Homo sapiens: one gene and its partner. The protein of the gene in region 2 purifies or fractionates together with the protein of the main gene of each other region. This does not show direct contact. Each region holds a gene or a part of one and is shown on either strand. Other genes may lie near its edges. The genes, in order: LONP1 and DCAF12L2.

Region 1 (8,529 bases), on a different chromosome or scaffold from region 2:
AGCTCTAATGGCATGGGGGAGGGCATCTGTGAGACGGACAGAGCCATGCAAGCCACTCTACATCTGCCACTGATACTGGGGGGCACTCCTGATGCCCTGAGGGGTCCCCATGCCCCCCAGTCCTGTCCCCAGGAACTACAGGCCCGTCCCTTGGAGAAGTCAGGCTGGGAACTGGGCCCAGCAGTGGGCATTGAAGCCCCCAGGGGACACGAGGATGCTGGGAGGGCCTCAAGGGCAGGGACCAGTGCCCACCACTGGCTGTCAAAGGGCTCCTAGGGGAGAAATGCACTCAGCACCTTTGCAGAAAAAAAAACACATGAGAAATATGGGCCCCTGCATGCTCCTCACTGAAACCACTTCTCCTCCAAGCCTCATTCTGGGTGGGAGCCACAGGCCCCACTGCTTCCGGCTGCCAGAAACCTTCCCTACACTCTGGGCCAGGTGGGGGCCCCACCATGGGGCAGCCTGGAGGCCCCGGGAGACAGAGTGTGTGGCCTGACGGTGGTGGGCGGTGTTTTGGACAGTCCCAGGCCCTAAACCCTGCGCCCACTCGCGCCACCTGCAGCTGCTCGCAAGCGTCTGGTGTGTCTCTCACGGCCCCATCTGCTCCTCGGCCGCAGGTCCCACCTGTCTCTCCCGGGCCCAGGAGCTCCCAGAGGCACGGCCTCTGCAGGCTCTGGGGGGCGCCCCCTGCTCTGGGAAGGGGACAGCAGTGGGGAGGGGCTGGGCTTACCTCCGCAATGGCCAGCTTCTCCTGGGCCACGTAGCCCGACACGTTGATCATCTCCATACGGTCTCGCAGCGGCTCGGGGATGGTGTCCGTGACGTTGGCCGTGCAGATGAACAGCACCTGGGGGCGGCGGCAAGGTGCTGGGGGACTGGCCGCTTACCCTCCCCAGCAAGCCCAGGCCCCAGACAGGCCCCCCACCTTGGACAAGTCCACGGGCACGTCCAGGTAGTGGTCCAGGAAGTTGGCATTCTGCTCTGGGTCCAGCAGCTCCAGCAGTGCCGACGACGGGTCCCCCTGGTAGCCTCGGCCGATCTTGTCCACCTGGGGCAGCAGACAGCAGGTGGTGCCCCTCGCCGTGCCCCTGGCCAGCCCGCCCAGTGGGGAGACCCCAGGGTCAGGGCTGGGGAGACCCCGAGTGAGAGCGGCACCCACACCCTGCCTTGGACGGGCAGCCTGCTGGGCGTGGCTGTGGGTGGGAGGGACCCGTCCGTGCCATCAGGGCCAGCATCACGGCGATGGCCCCTGAGTTGGCTCGGGGATCCTAGGACCCGGAAGGCTCGGCTTCATCTTGCACACGGCATTGCCGGGTTAGGGGGTCTCCGGGCCTCTCCGCACGCACCTCGTCGATGAGGATCAGGGGGTTCTCCGTCTTGGTCTTCTTCAAACACTGGATGATCTTCCCGGGCATGGCGCCCACGTAGGTCCGCCTGTGGGTGCACAGCGGGGTCAGAGGTCACTTGGTAGCCTGGCTCGGCCACAACGACACCATGCACCCTCCAGGGCCACAGGGGAGAGGCCACCTGGAGCCCCACAAGATGTGGCCATGATGTGGGAGGCGGAAATGCTGGCAGCCGCCGGATGTGTGGCACCTGCAGGCACGCTGGTCACTTGCCCTGACTCGCCAGCTCAGATTCTGGGGTCACTGATTCAAAGCCAGATCTCCCTCAGTCCCATCCCTCAGCTGACACCATGGTGAAAGCCAGACAGGCGCTGGCAGCAGAAGGCCCCCACTCCTCACTGAGGGACGCCAGGCACGCCTCAGCCCTCAAGGGCTGGGGTGATACTAGCCATGGCCAGCACTGGCTCTCAGGAGGGCTTCCTGCAAGCTCTGTGCTCTGCCCCAGCACAGGGGCCCGGCCCGCGACAGGGACAGAAGAATCCCAGGCCCCACGAGAGACAGTGAGGAAGGCTCTGTCTGTGGGATGAAGACACAGGGAGGCAGGGATGGAGGGACTGAGATGCCACTGGGATGTGTGTGACACTTTAAGTGTGCAGGGGGGTAAGGAGTGTCTTAGGGAGAGGCCCCGAGCAACGCACGTGAGGAGAGAGCCACGTGAGGGTCTGAGAGATGTGTTCCAGGCCCAGGACACAGCCCGTGCAAAGGCCCTGAAACAGGACCACGCCTGGTGTGTTAGAAGAACAGTGAGGAGGCCATGAGGCTGAGGCAGAGGGAGGAGGGGGGGAGAGAAGAGGGAGGAGAGGGGGAAGAGGGAGGAGATGGAGAGGGAAGGGGGTAGAGGGAGGGGGAGGAAGAAGAGAGGGAGAGAGAGGAGGGGGTGGGGCAGGTCATGCGGGGTCCTGTGGGCTGCAGTGAGAACTTGGGCTTTGACCGAGGAACGTGGGAGCCCTGGAGAGCTGGGGGCAAAGGAGGGTTTTGCTGCTGTTAATAACAACGATCCATCGCCCCGCAGCCAGTCTCCTGTCCTTGTCCTTGTCTCAGGAACCCAGAGACGTCAGCAGACGCCTGCCCTCCCCGCAGCCCCGCTACCTGGTGACTCCCTCCCAAGGCCAGAGGTGACCCAGGCTTGTTCAGAACCCCGCCAGGGTCTCTCCTCCGGCCCGCACCTCCAGCCATCCCTGAACCAGGCTCCAAGAGGCTTCGCGACCACTTCAAACCGCTTGCCCAGGAAGGACTGGGTGCCCCCCACCCCCACCCCTCCACCTTCACCCAGCTGCTCCTTCCTGCTCAGACCCCAGCCCAACCAAGGGCCTGCAGAACAGGTCCCCTGTCCTCCCCCTCACACCCCCCACCCCCTAGTCAATCTGGGACTCCCCAAAGCTGCACTGGCCCCACCTCCTCCAGCTCCTCCCAACTCCCGGCTGGTCAGAGTGGCCGCCCCCTGGGGACTGGACACTGCGCGGGCCAGCATGCTGTCACCCTTGCAGCGGGCGGGCAGATGCTAGGAAGGCCTGAGCCGGGAGGTCGGGAGCTGGGGATGTTTTTAGAGAAGGCAGAAATGTTCACTTTAAACCTGGACTCAAGTGAATGCCTTGCAGGATGGAAACACGTGGTGGACTCAGCAGATGCCTCACACTCGGCTCTCACTGAGGCTACGGTTTCCAAAGAACCGCTGTCTACAGAGGCTGGCGAGGAGGGAAGCCCCAGAAAAGCCGCGCCCGGCTGCCCACCCAAAGGGTCAGGTGGGAGGGCGCTGAACTCTGAGGGCCGTGGCCCCTGCTTCTGGGCCTGAGGCTGGCCGGGACGAGTGAGCCCACAGAGGCGCCAAGGTTTCTCTGGTGTGCGCGGCCCGGTCCTCACTGGAGACCGTCTCTCCTGACTCCAGCCCACAGGCTTCGGGGTGGGGGGTGGAGCCGACCCCACCCCTAGTCCTGGGGCATCAGCCACAGCCCACATAGACCAGCATCTGCACGGCAAACGCCGGCCCTGCAGCTCTGGCCCGGGCATTGCAGGTCCTATGCTGGAACTACCGGGGGTGTCTGCTGAGGGCCGGCCCGAGAAGTCTCTCTCCCAGGGGTCAAGCCATGGAGGTTCCTGCCAGCGCTGTTTGAGCACCTGGAATCAGCTGGGCCTGAAGTCCGCCACATGGCTGGACTTTTCAGTTACTCCAGCATGAGTGGAATCGGTTGCCCACAACCCGGATTGCTCTACCAGATGTTAAAGGGTGACCGGAGAAGACGAAGCCCGGCAGCACAGCTGAGGGGAGTGCGTGGGGAGAGCTGTCAGGCCAGGCCTACCTGTGGCCCTTGATCTCAGCCACGTCAGTCATGCCCCCGACGCTGAAGCGGAAGTACTCTCGGTTCAGGGCGCGGGCGATGGAGCGAGCAATGCTGGTCTTACCCACGCCAGGGGGGCCATAGAAGCAGAGGATCTTGCCCTGGGTGGAGCCGCGGAGCTGGCTAACGGCAATGAACTCCTGCAGACAGAGGCAGGTTCAGTGGGCACGTGAGCTGGGGAAGCCGGGGACCCGCGCATGACTCTCGCCACCTGCACACTGCCTTTCAGACGTCTGAGGGCTGCGAGAAGGGACCAGGATTGTCCGGGAGGCTGAGCACATCAGAGCTGCCACTGGCCACGGGGAGGGGCAGCCTGTGACAAGGGCTCCATTTAACAATTTAACACCAAAGGACAACTAGGTGCTAGGAGACCGCGGCCACCCGGCAGTGCCAGGCCCGTTCAGCAGTTCCCGGGACCCTGAAGACCGCAAATGCTCCACTCTCTCCGGTCCAACCCAGAGAAGCAGTCCACCAATGCCTCTGGCTCCTGTTTTTTTTTTTTTTTTTTTTGAGATGGAGTCTTGCTCTGTGGCCCAGGCTAGAGTGTACTGGTGCGATCTCATCTCACTGCAACCTCAGCCTCCTGGGTTCAAGCAATTCTCCTGCCTCAGCCTCCTGAGTAGCTGGGATTACAGGTGTGAGTCACCATGCCTGGCTACTTTTTTTGTATTTTTAGTAGAGGCGAGGTTTCACCATGTTGGTCAGGCTGGTCTCGAACTCCTGACCTTGTGATCCACCCGCCTCGGCCTCCCCAAGTGCTGGGATTACAGGTGTGAGCCACCATGCCCAGGCTCTGACTCCTGTTTTTTAACCTTTGACTCCCACCTGCCTGCCTGGTTTCCAATGTCTCAGGAGTGATATTTTAAAAATTAATTTAAAATTAATTAATTTTCAGACAAGGTCTCGCTCTGTCACCCAGGCTGGAGTGTAGTGGTGCATCACAGCTCACTGCAGCCTCCACCTCCCGGGCTCAAGCAGTCCTCCCACCTCAGCCTCCCAAGTAGCTGGGACTGCAGACACGCAACATCACACCAGGCTAATTAAAAAAAATTTTTTTTCCTTTTTGAGACGGAGTTTCACTCTTGTTGCCCAGGCTGGAGTGCAATGGCACGATCTGGGCTCACTGCAACCTCTGGCTCCTGGGTTCAAGCGATTCTCCTGCCTCAGCCTCCCAAGTAGCTGGGATTACAGGCATGCGCCACCACGCCTAACTAATTTTGTATTTTTAGTATAGATGGGGTTTCTCCATGTTGGTCAGGCTGGTCTTCAACTCCCGACCTCAGGTGATCTGCATGCCTCAGCCTCCCAAAGTGCTGGGATTACAGGCATGAGCCACAGCGCCCAGCCGCAATTTTAAAATTTTTTGTAGAGATGGGGGTCTCACTCTGTCACCCAACCTGATGTGCAGTGGCATGATCACAGCTCACCACAGCCTCAACTTCCTGGGCTCAAGTGATCCTCCCGCCTCAGCCTCCTGAGTAACTGGGACTACAAGCAGCCCCACCATGCCCGGCCCGTCAGGCATGACTTCAGTCCACCTGGGAAATCCTCGAGCCCTCGGGGGCAGGGCAGGATGCTACCTCCGCCGGGATCCCCCCGACCAGCACCCCCAGGCCTACGAATTCACCAGGGGGCTCCTTTGAAATCTCAACCCACAGCACACAAGAGTCCTGGGCCCGGGCACCCACATGCAAATCCACAACAGGCCAGACACTGGGCTCACCAGGATGCGTTTCTTGACGTCCTCCATGCCGTAGTGGTCTTCCTCCAGCACTGCCTGTGCCCGCGCCAGGTCCAGGTTCTCGTTGCTGTACTTGCCCCAAGGGATGGACGTGAGCCAGTCTAGGTAGTTGCGGGTGACACTGCCAGGGGACAGATGGAGAGATGCTGAGTGGAGCTCACGAGCTGCCTGTCTCTCTGCTGGACTTGGCTGGGTGGTTGCAAGGGGCTTGAAACCCATGTGTGGGGCTGAGCGCGGTGGCTCACGCCTGTAATCCCAGCTCTTTGGGAGGCCCAGGTGGGAGGATCACTTGAGCCCAGGAGTTCAAGACCAGCCTGAGCAACTCAGCAAGACCCCATCTCTATAAAACAATTTACAGGCCAGGCACAGTGGCTCACGCCTGTAATCCCAGAATTTTGGGAGGCCGAGGCAGGCGGATCACAAGGTCAGGAGATCGAGACCATCCTGGCTAGCACGGTGAAACCCTGTCTCTACTAAAAATACAAAAAATGCTTCTGCCTCTGCCTCTGCCCTCTGCCTCTCCCCTTTCCACGGTCTCCCCTTTCCCTCTTTCCATGGTCTCCCTCTGATGCCGAGCCGAGGCTGGACTGTGTGCTGCCATCTTGGCTCACTGCAACCTCCCTGCCTGGTTCTCCTGCCTGAGCCTGCCGAGTGCCTGCGATTGCAGGCGCGCGCCGCCACGCCTGACTGGTTTTCCTATTTTTTTGGTGGAGACGGGGTTTCACTGTGTTGGCCGGGCTGGTCTCCAGGTCCTAACCGCGAGTGGTCCGCCGGCCTCGGCCTCCCGAGGTGCCGGGATTGCAGACGGAGTCTCGTTCACTCAGTGCTCAATGGTGCCCAGGCTGGAGTGCAGTGGCGTGATCTCGGCTCGCTACAACCTCCACCTCCCAGCCGCCTGCCTTAGCCTCCCAAAGTGCCGAGATTGCAGCCTCTGCCCGGCCGCCACCCTGTCTGGGAAGTGAGGAGCGTCTCTGCCTGGCCGCCCATCGTCTGGGATGTGAGGAGCCCCTCTGCCTGGCTGCCCAGTCTGGAAGGTGAGGAGCGTCTCTGCCCGGCCGCCCATCATCTGAGATGTGGGGAGCGCCTCTGCCCCGCCGCCCTGTCTGGGATATGAGGAGCGCCTCTGCCCGGCCGCGACCCCGTCTGGGAGGGGAAGAGCGTCTCTGCCCGGCAGCCCTGAGAAGTGAGGAGACCCTCTGCCTGGCAACCGACCCGTCTGAGAAGTGAGGAGCGTCTCCGCCCAGCAGCCACCCCGTCCGGGAGGGAGGTGGGGGGGTCAGCCCCCCACCCGGCCAGCCGCCCCGTCCGGGAGGTGAGGGGCGCCTCTGCCCGGCCGCCCCTACTGGGAAGTGAGGAGCCCCTCTGCCCGGCCAGCCGCCCCCTCCGGGAGGGAGGAGTGGGGGTCAGCCCCCCGCCCGGCTAGCCGCCCCGTCTGGGAGGGAGGTTGGGGGGGGGGTCAGCCCCCCACCAGGCCAGCTGCCCCATCCGGGAGGGAGGTGGAGGCGTCAGCCCCCCGCCCAGCCAGCCGCCCCGTCCGGGAGGGAGGTGGGGGGGTCAGCCCCCCGCCCGGCCAGCCGCCCCGTCCGGGAGGTGAGGGGCGCCTCTGCCCGGCCGCCCCTACTGGGAAGTGAGGAGCCCCTCTGCCTGGCCAGCCGCCCCCTCTGGGAGGGAGGAGTGGGGGTCAGCCCCCCGCCCGGCCAGCCGCCCCATCTGGGAGGTGTACCCAACAGCTCATTGAGAACGGGCCATGATGACAATGGCAGTTTTGTGGAATAGAAAAGGGGGAAAGGATTGAGAAATCGGATGGTTGCCGTGTCTGTGTAGAAAGAAGTAGACATGAGAGACTTTTCATTTTGTTCTGTACTAAGAAAAATTCTTCTGCCTTGGGATCCTGTTGATCGGTGACCTTACCCCCAACCCTGTGCTCTCTGAAACATGTGCTGTGTCCACTCAGGGTTAAATGGATTAAGGGCGGTGCAAGATGTGCTTTGTTAAACAGATGCTTGAAGGCAGCATGCTGGTTAAGAGTCATCACCACTCCCTAATCTCAAGTACCCAGGGACACAAACACTGCGGAAGGCCGCAGGGTCCTCTGCCTAGGAAAACCAGAGACCCTTGTTCACTTGTTTATCTGCTGACCCTCCCTCCACTATTGTCCTATGACCCTGCCAAATCCCCCTCTGCGAGAAACACCCAAGAATGATCAATAAAAAAAAAAAAAAAAATTAGCTGGGCGTGGCAGCGGACACCTGTAGTTCCAGCTACTCGGGAGGCTGAGGCAGGAGAATGGCATGAACCCGAGAGGCGGAGCTTGCAGTGAGCCGAGATCGTGCCACTGCACTCCAGCCTGGGCAACAGAGTGAGACTCCATCTCAAAAAAAAAAAAAAAAAAAAATTTACAAACTGCCCTGTCCAAAGCACCCAGTGCAGGAAGGAGGAGATGGCCGGAGGTCCACTGCTGACTCATCAGGAGAGCCAAGACGGCACTGGCTTCTGCCCAGGGCTGAGTGAGCAGAACCACAGAGGGGACGAGGCTTAGAAAATGGGACAAGGCCTGACCCAGGGCAGGTGGGGAAATGGAGGCCAGGTCCCCTGCCGGGAGAGTGACGCTGAAGGTTGGGAGGGCAACTCCATATTGGTCCCCAAGTTGGGAGCCGTGCAGCAGTGAGCAGCGGCCACTATGGGCCAGGAGCAAGTCAGTGAGGGCTGCAAGAGCACACGGCAGGATTGGGGAAGAGGATGAAGAGGAGGACGGCTTCCGAGGAAGGGCCAGGCGGCCCCACGAGCAGACACCGTCAGGGCGCACTGCCACCCAACGGGCATACGAGACGCACCGGGACAGGCCAGCTGGGCCACACGGATGCTGGAGTTTAGAGACACATGAAGTCACTGTGGAAGTGACACAGGCAGTGACACTTTGCGGAGAGCATTCTGGGTGGGAGAGGTAGCTGGCAGCCTGCTGCAGGCATCTTGGTGACACGCAGGTACTGAGGGCTTGTCCCCCGTGACTTCCCAGGACCTGAGGACAGAACCCGCCTTACAG
Region 2 (9,181 bases):
ATTTTAGTGACATGGGCAGATCTGTATTTTGCGAGCATTACTCTGGGTACAGCCTGGATAATTGAATGGAGGAGGAAAAGCGTAGTTTTAGGAAAATCACTTATGAAGGTGGCTTGGGAAAGGATGGTAGCTGTGGAAATACTGAGAATTAAATGAATTTGAGAAATGGTAGAAGATGGAATATTGAACCTGAAGACAAAAAATGTGTGTCAAGGATAGTTGCTAGGACTTCAGTTTGTACAGCTGGATGGATGGCGATACTATTCATTAAAACAGGGAACTATATAAGCTCAAGTATATGGGGACTGAAATCAATAACTTGAGCTCATACAGTCTGAATTTGAAGTTCTGTTTTGGTAGCCAAGATGTCAAGCAGGAAGTTGAACAAACAGGTTTGGGATAGAGATACAAAATTGAGATGGCTTGGCATATATTATGCATTTAAAGCTAGGAGTAAGATGGTATTGAAAGTTGGGAAAATAGCAACTAGGCATATATATCTGGTTAAAACATTTCAGAGCATGGAATAGAATGATTTCTCAATCAATTTTATGGACATAATCTCCCTCCAGGTCTTCTTTTATGTACCTAGCTAATATCGGAGCATTATCTATGGCCTATTTTCAGTCTATCCAATTTCACAACTATCAACTGATAAGAAATGCTCTAAATCTAAGAAAAGATCAGTTCTTTGTTCTTTGTCGATATTTATATTGACAATTATTTGCAAAAGGAACCCAAGTCTGGCTGCTTCAAAAAATAAACCTTACAACTTCCACTTGGTGATCTACTAGCATGCGGTAAAGTTATTCTTACAATACATTCTTCCCATACTAATATTCATCTTTAGGTTGGCAACAAAATAGACATTGATGAGCTGTATGTGAACAGACAAGTAGCTCTTACTACAAATAATTTATCCCCATGTGTGCCAGTTTTCATAATGGTGTTTATATGTGTTTCACAATACAGCGGACACTCACAAAACCCTATTAGCATTGCTACCAAGTTGTCTTTGTAAAGTTAAGTAGTGGAAAGGAGGGAAGGTAGTTTTAAGAAATGTATTAAGTGCTTTATAATCTGCCAGGCACTATTCTTATTGTTATATATGTATTAACTCATTTAGCCATCAAAACAAAACCCCATGGAATAAGTGCTATTATTATCCCCATTTAAAAAATCTGGGGATAATTGCAAAGGGAATATTATAACTGGCCCAGTTTCAAGGCCAGCAAGCCCTAGAACCAGAATTCAAAATATGTTATCTGGCTCCAGAGCCGATTCACATAACCACTAGCCTGTAGTGTCTCCCACAAAACATATAACTAGCATTGAATCTACCCTCTCACAAAACAAAGCCCAAGCTTGGACTCTGACACACTCCTTCCTCTTAGAAAATATGGAGAGGAGTAGGGCATAGAAGAGGTCATGTGGTCAAAATTGCCTCCTTTCCTCTAATTCTGTTTATAGTAAATGTAATAATGTGATAAATCTTTCCTATCTTACCCCATCTGACAGCATATGCCTTTAGTTGTGCCATCATAGGGCGAAACAACTTGCTGAGTCATCTATATCACTTTCTGCGTCATGAAGTTTGGAAGAATAATCTGACCACAAACCAGGTTCATAGCTGCTTATCTTAAGAGACTTGAGAAGGTCACAACTTGAAAATGTTATGACTGTGTTATAATTAGAGATTAAGGGAAAATTTATTCAATTTAATAATTCAAGAATATTTTGTCTTGTGTCTGGTATAAGTAACCATATCATTATCAGATGTTATTTTAAAACAAGCTTAATTAACTATATTTCTTTTTTCAGTGTCTTATATTTATACTTGCTGATAAAGAAAATGCAAATGCTATACATACAAATGTAAGAAAGATGTCACAATATACTTTTAAGGGCATCTTTGTTTCATATCTATATACAACATATTGGAAATTACTATATGATCACATTTCTGAACACAAATGCCTCTATATCTGAAAATATGCTGCAATTTGTAAGGCCTTATTTGTAACATCTATTTTTCTGTTGATTATATGAAAGCCACTTTTAGAATTTATTCAAACAGACTTGTTACTGATCCACCCGTCTTACTATTGCCCCACCTTTTTCTCAACTTTCAGTATCTTTTTCCTGAGATTATTTTAGTTTTGGACATAAAATCTAACACTTTAAAAATAATTTAAAACACATTTAGAAACAAGTTTATATTCATGATACCACAGGGAAGTAACAAATATTCTGCCTTAATTTTTAATTGTTAATCTATTTTGGTTATTGGCTAGACATCTCATTTTTTCATTCATAGATTAGAAAAGTGGACAGACACAGTTGATGAAATCATCCAATGGTTCAAGGAAACATATGTAAATATAAATATAAATGTAAATAAATAAGCATAGCTAATAATACAACAACTTGTTTGAAATTATGTATATATAGATATGTAGGTCAAAATAGGTCTGCATAGATATCTATGTAAATTCAAACAAGTTATGTGGCATTATTACAATTCAAGTCCCTCACTTTCTCCATTTCAAGTAATTTAATTTCAAAATATCTTCTACTTGTTGGATATTTCAATTTCTTTTCTCTCTTTTAGTTCTCTTTACTTATCAACAAGTAAATCCCAAGTTTTCATAAACCATTGACTACTTACCTAGGACGGTGTGATGGTACAAAATAAGTAGGAAACATGTAACCTTTTGAGGAGCTTACAATCTGATTGGGATAACAAAATTTAAACACATTAAGTAATTAGAGAACAGCATGAGACAGTGCCCTGAAGCCATTCATATAAGACCCTATTCAATGGCGGGGAATCTAGGGTAGGGAGACAGGCTAGTCTAATACAAAGCAAAAACCTATAATAAACACAGAAATATCTCGGTAAGGACTGACAAAATATTCACACTCACATAGACAGCAGCCCTCAGAGGTAACAGAAGTACCTTATTGGGATCCCAACACTCAGAAAACTATGCAGATACCTGACATTTTTATCACATGCCATTGCAGCTACTGTTTCAACAATAAATGCACTATTTATGATGTTATATATTAGCAGATATTGTATTTTCCTGAACATGGAAGTAACCAGATGCAAAGGAAGTTCAAAATTGCAAGTTCATATACAAAACTGTACATCTCTCAATATATCTTGCCTTTGGTCTGGAAGTTGTTTGTACAGCTTTAAAGAGCTTAGAGAAATTTGAAAGCCTAGCGTAAAAGAAATGTGTTTCAGGTATAATATTCCAGAGGAAGTTAACCTAACTCATTTATCAATACATGATAGTAATCTGACCACTCCCTACAAACATATTATTATATTTAAATATTACATATTTACATTAACAAAAAGTGGAGATTTATGTGGATGTTTTCACCAAACATAAAAAAACTTGTGAATACATATTACTGCACCTCATAAGTATTAATTAAAAGAAATGTGTAAAAAATAGGTCCCAGAGATGATATATTTGCCTTTAAATATCATATGGACAATGTTGTACATCATTTGCATTCAGTATTTATTTATTTATCACTTCCGGTTATCTTTAAGAAGCACAGAAGACATTGCGTATAAAATTTCAACAATAGAGGTAGTTTACATGGTTTTTAAGAGAAGGAAACAAAAAAAGTTTGTTGAATAATATAAAGTAGTCTTAAGTTATGAAAGTATTAGAGTCACACAGAGATTCACATCTTGACTTTATCACTTACTAGCTGTGTGACAATGGGGGAGTCACTACCTTTACTGAGCCTCAATTTCCCTCATTTTAAAACAGGGCAATAAAAATAGAACCTACCTTATAAAGTTATTGTGATGCCAAATGTACATAAAGTATTTAGCATTTGAAGCATTTAACACATCCCTCCAGCCCATGATATGAATAAGTTTTCAATAGATAATAGCTGTTATAAGCATTATTTACTTTTACAAATGTGGTATTTATGCACAATGTAATACTACTCAACCATAAAAGAAAGAAATCATGTCATTTGCAGCAACATGGATGAAACTGTAAATCATTATCTGAAGTGAAATAAGCTAGGCACAAAAAGACAAATATTCCATATTTTCACTTATATATGGGAGCTAAAAAATGTGATCATATGCAGGTAGAAAGTGGAAAGATAGATAATGGAAACTGGGAAGGGTAGTGGGGAGAGGGGAGGATGAAGAGAAAGGGTTAAAGGGTACAGGCATACAATAAGACTGAAGGAATAAACTCAATGTTGGATAGCAGGAAAGGGTGACTATACTTAACAGAAATGTATTGTACACTGGTGATGGACACCCTAAATACTCTGACCTGATCGCTAGGCATATATACATGTAACAAAATTCCTCATGTACTCCATATATTTGCACAAATTAAAAAAAGTTTATGTGGAGAAAAACCCATATATACATACACATATATATGTAATATATATAAACCATATATATACACACATACATATTTCAGCCAATTTGTTATACATATGTTATATATGACCAACTAGTCTGATAATAGCCTAAGATTTTGAGCCTATTTTATTTACCGCAACAGTAAAAAATATGCCATGAAGTCTTATATAATATCAAGTTTTCTAAGTCAAGATTTTTTAGAAAAGAAAAGAAAGCCTTAAGATAGGTTAGGTTAAAGAAATTTGTGATCAGTTTTTCTCTAGTAATGTCACTTCCAATTATGAAATCGTCAGCATTTTTTTCATTGTCAGATTACTCCCAATCCGTCACCCTCACCCTCCTCTTGATACAGCACTAAACATGGGTAGGAATATTGAGGCAGAGAAGGGGAGGATGGGCACTAAGGTGCAACAGTTGGACTGGAGTGATGTGAAGGATCCATGGTGCACTTGGAGTTTCTGGGTTTGAGATAAGTTTGTAAAAAGAGCAGGGAGAATTGGGGGGAAACAGCAACAAAGTATTTTCATGATCTCTGATCAAGGACAGTTAACTCACCACCTGACTTCTGCAAACACGCTTAACAAAGACTTTTTTTGTGGAGGACGATTGGGGCCTGTGCAGACCTGGTATCAGCCACCAGCATTTCAGTGCAAGGTATTACTGTGGAATTGGGGGCTTGCTTTAGGATTGACTGCCCTAAAGCTTTAGAGCAGGTGTGGATCATGTAACTTCTCAGACTGCCAAACTCATGCTTTGAATATCCACACTCTCACCATTTTGCCATTTAGTCACTTTGCAAAGTTCTTTATCATCTGTGCCTGTGGAAATCCTGTGCATTCCTCTGAGTACTGTACCAATGCCCAAGGGGGCCCCCACACCAAGAGAGGGCTCTGCCAAGATTCCTATGACTGAAAGTTTGGGCTGACCTTTCCGTCCCAGGAGAGAGAGGGAGGTACCCCTCTCCTGGACCTCTTCCCCTTCACTCCACCCGCCCTGGGCTGAGTTCGAAAGAACTCAATGCCTTACAGAAAAACCCTTCTCTTCACCCCTCACCCCCATGTCTCCACCCCTATCATCACTGCAGCCCTGGATGCTCCTGAGGCTGCTTTCTGACTAAAGGGTCCCTGATACCACCCGGGTGGAAAGCAGGGCCTAGGGAACTGCATTTGGAACGCAGTTCAAATGCTCAGGGATTCAGGTGCTCAAAGACTTCAGTTTGAGAAGGGGAAAAAAATTATTTGGTGGAAACTGTTTAAGACATCAACCCAGGAGCTGAAACTGGAGAAGCTGCAGGTCTGACACGAGGGTAGAGGTCTCCCTGACGCTGCTGAACCCCACACCCCCCCACCCCCGCACCCGATCCCTTGCCAAATTCAATGTATAATCTAAGCGAAGGGTGTCCCAAGATTACACCAAGCGCACACTGGTTTCTCCAGGCAGACCGTGGCTCGGCCTCCTTCTAGCCCCGTGCTTGATTATATCTTAGGTTTCAGATTTTACTGAAGTACGGATTTTAAGAAGGGTAGTTAGCTGTTGTCCTGAGGGTAGCGAAACAACGCATGTCTGATACTGGGGACCTAGGGTGCTGGCCCTCCGCGACTCTGCCCCTGCAGCTCCGCTACCCCCTTCTCCCCTCCGCCCCCTTCCAGCCTCCACCCCGCGCGGCCTCCGCTACCCGGCAGGCACCCCACGCCAGCCCAGCAGCTCCTCCCACTGCCTCCGCCCTTCACACTCGGGCCCCAGCGTCGTCCTCCCCCCACACTGACTTCGCTCCCGCAGCCATCCAGACAGACACTCTTCCCGCTCTCGCCTAGGTCTGCACCGCCACTGCCGCCCTTGCCGCCGCGCTTCGCCCCGGCTCTGCTACGTCAGGCCGCGCATCTCTGGCCAGGACGACCGCTGCCGCCGCCGCCGCCGCCGAGCCTCAGACTGAAGTCTGGGCGCCCGCGATCGCACCAGCTTCTTGGTCTTAGAGATCCTGAGCTCTCGGCTGACGCGGAAGCGCAGCCATCCCCACCACCGCCGCCACGGCCAACACGGGTGCCACGCGCCGCCACCGCCGCCGGGCCGCCGCCGCCGCCGCCGCCGCCGCCGCCGCTGCTGCAGATCGCCCGCCGCCCACCATGGCCCAGCAGCAAACAGGTAGCAGGAAACGGAAAGCGCCCGCGGTCGAGGCGGGAGCCGGGAGCTCGTCGTCGCAGGGTTTAGCGGCGGCGGACGGAGAGGGGCCTCTGCTACCCAAGAAGCAGAAGCGGCCGGCGACGCGTCGCAGGCTGGTGCACTATCTGAAGGGCCGGGAGGTAGGAGCGCGGGGCCCAGCCGGGCTCCAGGGCTTCGAGGGCGAGCTGCGGGGCTACGCCGTCCAGAGGCTGCCCGAGCTGCTGACGGAGCGCCAGCTGGACCTGGGCACCCTCAACAAGGTGTTCGCGTCACAGTGGCTGAACGCCAGGCAGGTGGTGTGCGGCACCAAGTGTAATACGCTGTTTGTGGTGGACGTGCAGTCAGGCCACATCACGCGCATCCCCCTCATGCGGGACAAGGAGGCCGGGCTGGCCCAGGCCCACCAGGGCTGCGGCATCCATGCCATCGAGCTGAATCCCTCCAAGACGCTTCTGGCCACCGGCGGCGAAAACCCCAACAGCCTGGCCATCTACCAGCTGCCCACCCTGGACCCCCTGTGCCTGGGCGACCGCCATGGCCACAAGGACTGGATCTTCGCAGTCGCCTGGCTGAGTGACACCGTAGCTGTGAGCGGCTCCCGCGACGGCACCGTGGCTCTGTGGCGGATGGACCCAGACATGTTTAATGGCAGCATTGCCTGGCACAGCGAGGTGGGTCTCCCAGTATATGCCCACATCCGTCCGAGGGATGTGGAGGCCATCCCCAGGGCCAGCACCAACCCCAGCAACCGCAAGGTACGGGCCCTGGCCTTCAGCGGCAAGAACCAGGAGCTGGGAGCGGTGTCCTTGGACGGCTACTTCCACCTGTGGAAAGCCCGGAGCACACTATCCAGGCTCCTGTCCATCAGGCTGCCCTACTGCCGAGAGAATGTGTGCCTGACCTACTGTGATGAGTTGTCCCTGTACGCTGTGGGCTCTCAGTCCCACGTCTCCTTCCTGGATCCGCGCCAGCGCCAGCAGAACATCCGGCCCCTGTGCTCTCGAGAGGGTGGCACAGGCGTGCGGTCGCTGAGCTTCTACCAGCACATCATCACTGTGGGCACCGGCCATGGTTCCCTGCTCTTCTATGACATCCGCGCCCAGAAGTTCCTGGAGGAGAGGGCCTCTTCCAGCCTGGACTCCATGCCGGGGCCCGCAGGGAGGAAGCTCAAGCTTGCCTGCGGCAGAGGCTGGCTCAACCAAGATGACGTCTGGGTGAACTACTTTGGTGGCATGGGAGAGTTCCCCAATGCGCTCTACACCCACTGCTACAACTGGCCGGAGATGAAGCTCTTTGTGGCTGGGGGGCCTCTCCCTTCAGGCCTCCATGGGAACTACGCAGGCCTCTGGAGTTAAGGATGGACGCCTTGTTCTCAAAGTGCACAGGTTTACCTTTCAGTTCCGCCTGACTTTCCTTCTTCATGCTGCATTTGTGCTTTTAACTTTGTGTGGCTTTTGTCTTCCAGGTGGAACCAGTCCAACTTACGTGTGCTTAATGTATTAGGCAGAGAAAGAAAGAGAGAGAGCGGGAGCGAGAGAGCACAAGTGGTCCTTTCGGCAGTCAAAACTTTGGCTTTAAAACTCTCATTCACGTTTCCCAACAGCAGTATATTTTTGCCTTCTCATTCAAAGAGTTTTGGCTAAACCTTAATTGTGTTCTGTCTTTCAGTGATTCACATACCCTCCTTCTTTAGGTTGATGTAGTCATAGTCTTCACTACTATTCAGTACGTTAGTTTTATCAATATTGCAATAGTGTTCAGATCTTTTACACATGTTAGATGTGTGGTGTTTTGGGGAAATGTGAGCTACAAAGCATCTTTGGGGTTGTTTTGAGGAACTACCCATCATTTATAGCCTTACTCTAATTACAAAATGCAGTTCAGGTTCTAGATTGCCACCATTCTAGAGTGTGGCACACACCATTCTAGGGCGTGATTCATTTGGATGTTGGAAACTCAATGTCTGTTGTTTGTATAGTGTTGATGTGTAAAATGCTTTAAAAATATGTTCTGTTAGTTAGAAATCTTACAATGTTGTTCATACTATTAATCAACATTTTTGGTTATTCAGTAAAACTTTACTATCCTCAGGCCCTCCGTGTTCTTATTTAAAGCCGCTGTATTATGGCCTGCTTTTCTATGCTACAGATTTTCAGAACTACTCAATTCTGGTCTATATATGTGGTAGTGCAATCAGGGAGGTATTTTTGGGGGTATATGGGGTACACATCTCTTTAAATTCAGGTAGCTATTTACAGTGAAAAGCCAGTTGTGGCAGTTGTGCTCAGAGTAGGTGTTGATTTTTTATTACTGTATACATGGATAATTCTGGATCCAGTATGTGATGTGTTGCAGAAAAATAAATAAAATGTGTTCATCATCTTAGCAATTAAGTGGCAGACTTAAGTTCTTAATACTTAAATATATGCTTTCTTTTTTCATTTGTCTTTCTGAGAACGTATTTATCAAAGTCAAAACTTTCCAGGACAGAAGCTGAATCTGAAGCATTAGCTATGCAGACATTACTTTGTACATCTCTTTTTGAAAATGAAACTTATAAGTTAAAAGATTAAACAACATCTTGAATACGTTATGAAA

What was found.
Region 1: the proteins of DCAF12L2 (region 2) and LONP1 purify together in Homo sapiens (co-immunoprecipitation; 3 studies listed by BioGRID and IntAct, with this or other methods). This does not show direct contact.

Annotation. Positions count from the first base shown.
Region 1 is NC_000019.10:5,695,321-5,703,849, forward strand, and holds part of LONP1 (lon protease homolog, mitochondrial isoform 1 precursor), read right to left. Parts: exon of another isoform or gene 8,411-8,529; intron 5,608-8,410; coding exon 5,469-5,607; intron 3,886-5,468; coding exon 3,707-3,885; intron 1,438-3,706; coding exon 1,350-1,437; intron 1,052-1,349; coding exon 929-1,051; intron 851-928; coding exon 734-850; intron 1-733. UniProt on the Homo sapiens protein: ATP-dependent serine protease that mediates the selective degradation of misfolded, unassembled or oxidatively damaged polypeptides as well as certain short-lived regulatory proteins in the mitochondrial matrix.
Region 2 is NC_000023.11:126,163,290-126,172,470, reverse strand, and holds DCAF12L2 (DDB1- and CUL4-associated factor 12-like protein 2), read left to right. Parts: upstream 1-6,181; 5' UTR 6,182-6,546; coding exon 6,547-7,938; 3' UTR 7,939-8,972; downstream 8,973-9,181.